Linked DNA regions of Homo sapiens: region 2 is linked to region 1. The links come from fine-mapping of genetic effects on gene expression. A gene starts in region 1. The other region holds a variant in brackets. All regions are shown on one strand. Distances are between the middles of the regions.

Region 1 (2,500 bases):
CAACAACAAAAAACTGTGTGACACAAAACTTGTTAAACAATGGGTAGAGATTGAAAATGCAAATACAATACTTTCAAATAAATTCCCAGAGTTGCTAATGTCTATCAGAGGAAAAGGAGGTGTAACGGTGCCTCCTCACTGGGTTCAGAATGCCTGGGTTCTGATCTTGGCTTGCCTACTTGTTAGTATTTCTGAGCCTGTCTCCTTGGTTGTAAAACAGCAATAAAAACACCTATCCTGACTACCACAAAGGGTGGCTTTGGCGTTCAAATGAAACCATGGATCTCTCTGGAAAACGACAGTGCCCCATAAATACAGTATTTTTGTTATTGCATCGCTGAAATTATTGCAAACCCCCAAACAAGGGGCATCTAGGGAAGAGCGACTTGGCTCTCCCACGTGGCGACTGTGTGTTTTCATCAATTTTGTCCTTTGTTTACAGGGGTATCTTGTTAAGGAAAACTTTTCAGTGTCTTAAAGATTATTTTTTAACCTACTACACAAGTAGCAAGGTGGTGCCTGTAAAAGTACCATGCAGACAAGTGCTTACGATAGACAAGTGCTCACTGCCAAGAAGCAGCCACCGGAATGCCAGGACTGTCAGCAATGACTTTCCGCGGAAGAGTTGTTCTCGAGAAAGATGCACTCATTGCATGCGACCACCCGAGGGACGCCGGCCGCCGAACGGAAACATGAATTCGTGGAAATGGCCATCTGGTGACGTAGTAGTGACACAGTTCTTATATTCTGATACATTTAATAATGTGTCACAATTCGCTGGACTAAGCAGGATGCTGCCACAAGAGGCAAACTCCCAGCGACCCGACGCCCGGCTCCCAGCCGACGAGCAAAAATAATGCGCGCGCACTCCGCTCCCATGGATCCAGCGAACGCACCGCCCCCCCACGCGGCCCGACTCGCGCGGCGACGTCGGGCCACGTGACCCTGAGCGGGACGACGGCAGGGGAGGGCGGGGGCTCCGGCCGGCTCCGCAGCGCCGCGCAGGCGCCCCAGGGCCACGCCGAACCGAGCCCCTCCTGCTCCGTCTAGGAGTCAAAATGGCGGCGAGGGGAACCTGGAGCAGTCCCGGAGCCTGAGCCACTGACAGGAGAGGAGAGGGCGGCGGCGGCGGCGGTGGGAGGAGGATGGCCGGGGGTGCTGGCGCCGGTGCGGACGGCGGTGCTGGTGGCGGCGGCGGCGGAGGCGACGGCAGCGGTCCCAGCGGCAGCAGCAGCGGCGGGAGGAGCCTCCGGGGTGAGTGTCCCTTGGTGTCTCTGAGGCTGTGGAGCCGAGGCTGTGTCCGGTGTGGCGCGGGGCGTCCGGGAGAGGAAGGGGCTGTTCTTAGGCGTGGGGGCGCCGGGGCTGGGGCCAAGCCGCCGCGGGAGGCGCTGGGGCGCCGGGCGGGGAGGGGCCAGTCGTCCGTCTGGGGCTGAGGCGCGGCGGCGCCGGACTGGCCGGTCTCTGTGCGCTCCGAGGGGCGGGCTGGAGCGCGCCGCCGTCCCTGGGGCAGGGGCGCGAGGTGTGGCGCTCGGGGCGGGGAGAGCGGCCCGAGGGAGTCGCGACGGCAGCCCGGCCGGCTTTGGGCTCCGGGCGCCGAGGGGCGGGACCCGTCGCTCCCAGGACGCTGAGAAACCGCTCCCGAGACGGGGGCGCGTGTTTACCCGGGTGCGGGGTTGCGACCGCCAGGGGTGGGCGTGAGAGTGGCCGGCGGGGTCTGGGAAGGGAGCAGGCCTGAGGACTGCTACTCCCAGGGGAAGTTAGATTGTCCGGGTAAGTTACTATTGCGGGATAAACCTGGAATTGAGCTTTGACAGGTTGGGAGGGAGACAATACCGAGTGTTTGATAAAGAAGAGGAGGCTGTGCTTGTTGGACTACTTGAATGGCAAAAAGTGTGCATATTTCAGTACCTTATTTGCACAGTGTTTGCTAGCTTTACCCCGAGGGTGAGAACTTTCTCACCGTTTTTCAAGAAACTCTGAGGAGTGTTGTTTCTCCTGTGAACTACAATTGCACGTCTTCACATACCAGCACAGATAATAAGTACTCTGGAGTAGGCCTAATTTACAGAAGCAGTCTTGGTTATCTACACCAGAGCACTGTTAACTCTGCGAAAACATCTTACTGTAATGAGAAAGTAGACATTTTTACAGAATTACTTAGCTTTTTCAACTAACAACCTTTTTGGGGGGGGGGAGACGGAGTCTCGCTCTGTCACCCAGGCTGGAGAACAGTGGTGCGATCTCGACTCACTGCAACCTCCGCCTCTCAGGTTCAAGCGATTCTCCTGTCTCAGCCTCCCAAGTAGCTGGGATTACAGGCGCCCGCTGCCACGCCCGGCTAGTTTTTGTATTTTTAATAGAGACGTGGTTTCACCATGTTGGCCAGACTGGTCTCGAGCTCCTGACCTCTGGTGATCCGCCCGCCTCGTCCTTCCGAACTACTGGGATTGCAGGCGTGAGCCACCGCGCCCGGTCTGGTCAACTAACAATCTTTTGTCCC
Region 2 (2,500 bases), 95 kb after region 1:
TCAGTGAATTCTTGACATTTAAATCTTCTTATAGAATTCTTTATGAAGCCTTAACTAATTCTTGTTTTTGCTTCCTCAGAAACTTTTTATTGCATCTGCCATCCTTCATTGGATTTTTGTTTTGGTTTGTTGTTGCCATTCTAGCAATGAGCTTAGTCCTTGTACATCTGCATTAAGGTGCCGATGCAGAAGGCAAATTGGAAACACGCGCCAGCGGCAGTGGGGCTCAAAGCCGACCTCCATGCATCATTCTCTAGAGTTGAAAGGATTGACATTTCTCAGTAACTACCCGGCAAAATATATATTTTCATAATGTTGAATTTGCCTTTTAGGAAAACAATGTTTCATGAAACACTTGTAAGATACTTATTTTGAAATTAATTATAAGGCATTCATATTTTTAGGACTGAATTCAAAGGGAAATGCTTCTTTGACTTTTTTTCATTGTTCGGTTGACTTTCAGCTTTCTGGAGTGACAAAGCAGCAGTGATGGGTGCTATTCCTGGTTCTGTGGTGGTTTACTTTGTCTACTAAGTGATTTACTTTCAAACCTCATTACAGATAATCTTACTAAAAGACTTAACATGCACACTGCTAAAAGGTGTTTTACTGTTTTCCATTAACGCTGTTGTATGAACAATATTTGGTGACATGTTGTCTTTTTGTCCTGTAGATTGTCATATCTGTTATGTAGTTATCCTTTTGGCAAGTCCTTTGATTTTTTTTTCCTCTAGAAAATCCTCAGACTGTCAATCTTCCATATTTTGAATATTATAATGCTGTGGCCATTTCTATAGAAAGATTACTTGCAAGTGTGTGTCTTGAAAATAACCTCTTGTATTTGTGTGTTTATGTGAGTTCTGTCTAAGAGATCAGATAAGCTCTGGAAGCTTCATCATCTGTACCTACATGTAACTGTATCTGGGTTACATGGGCAGGCGGTACCAAGTCCTGCTCTTCGATGGGGTGGCTGAGAGATAAAGGTTCCTGAACTCTCCTTGCTGTGTATGCACCACATCTGTACTTCAGAGAGGTGGAAAATCATCTACAACACTGCGTTTCTTGTGGTTGTGCTGTTACTGGTATAAAGTCAAGTGCCTTCAATGCTAAAGGCTCAGAAATTTTTCTTAAACTGATTTCATGTCCTATGCAAGTGTTTTCTACAACCTGCATAACCAGTACTTTGTAAAACTTGTTTACGCTTCAATTGTACATAGTGATTTTTAAAGAAATATATAGTATTTTTATTTAGGTACCTCCAAACTTGAATTCGTCTGTGTGAAGCATTGTAAAACGATACATTTCTCTTTTGAGTACCATTACAGTTGTACAGAGGTTTTCACTGCTTCTATTTTTCTACTGTTACTGATAAGCATGTAACACTGACTTTATCCTACATATAGTTGGCATTTCAAATAAATGGCTTGTATAGAATCTGCTGAGTTGGATACAGTCTGTTTTAGCAGTGGAGCATA[C/T]AGTCTTCAATTATAGAAGTCATTGCACCCCTGGAGGGTAGAATTGGGAGGTTTTCTAGGTTGATTTTCTCTGTTTCTAGGATTTCAATCATTCAGAGGCATTTTATCATCATCATCATCATCGTTTTCTCGGAAATCACACATTTTATTCTGAATCATCAAGTTCATTATTTTCTATTATTTCATTGAGACATTTCTGAGAAATTTTATTTTACAAATTTGAGCGGAAAGTTCCTCTCACAGGGGTCTTCAGGATTGCAGGAAGCTCAGCATGGCACCCACGTGAACCAGGCACCTGGATGTGTCCTGCTCTTCAGGGCCCTTCGAGGGTCAGAGACCTGGCCTAGATTCTGAGCTTTGCCTTTGCTTTCACACCCAGGCTCAGTAATATTTTCAATTTCAAAAGGAAATGAGATCATGGTCTAGAGTCTAGGATTCTGGAAAAAAAAAAAAAAAACGCAAAATGGAAAGTTTTCTAATTTCCATTTTTTAAAATTGCTACAAAAGAGCTCTTATTTTGTTTTTTATTTTTCAGACAATGTCTTGCTCTGTCACCCAGGCTGGAGTGCAGTGGTGTGATCACAGCTCACTACAGCCTCAATTTCCAGGCTCAAATGATCCTCCCACCTCAGCCTCCCGAGTAGCTGGGGCTACAGTCAGTGTTACACCACTATGCCTGGCTCATTTTTAAAATTTTTTGTAGAGACAGAGGAGGGGGTCTCACTACGTTACCTAGGATGGTCTCAAACTCCTGGGCTCAAGTGATGCTCCCACCTCAGCCTCCCTAAATGTTAGGATTATAGGCATGAGCCACTGCAACCAGCGAGCTCTTTAAAATGTTTTTTATCATTTCAGTGCCAAATTCTGTCCTAGCATCTCACTCTTCATGCCTTACTAACAAGTTATTGCTTTATAGTTTGTAACCATCTTAGGTTTAACAGAAGGGTATAAAGATAAAATAAAATCTAAGGTTTCTGTGGGTGAGCTTCTTAAATCTAAACAAGAAAATTGAATAAATCAACATT

Which allele goes with the higher level. Positions count from the first base shown, and alleles are read on the strand shown. Sizes are in standard deviations (SD) of each study's normalised expression.
As copies of C replace T in region 2, the expression in fibroblasts of the gene that starts at base 1,038 in region 1 goes up (small effect, 0.24 SD a copy in GTEx).

The links. PIP is the estimated chance that this variant, and not a neighbour inherited with it, causes the effect. A credible set is the group of variants that fine-mapping cannot tell apart.
Region 2: its variant is the best candidate, but not a certain one, in a credible set for the expression of BTBD7 in fibroblasts (GTEx, PIP 0.53).

Annotation. Positions count from the first base shown.
Region 1 is chr14:93,331,574-93,334,073 of GRCh38, reverse strand. It overlaps BTBD7 (BTB domain containing 7), which reads left to right and starts at 1,038. Exons shown (of 11, transcript NM_001002860.4): 1 at 1,038-1,254. It also overlaps a transcript of UNC79 not described here.
Region 2 is chr14:93,236,484-93,238,983 of GRCh38, reverse strand. BTBD7 (BTB domain containing 7) reads left to right here. Exons shown (of 11, transcript NM_001002860.4): 11 at 1-1,434. Among named protein-coding and RNA genes, the nearest start is that of UBR7, 30 kb to the right of the region's middle. The variant C/T (reference allele first, on the strand shown) is at 1,476.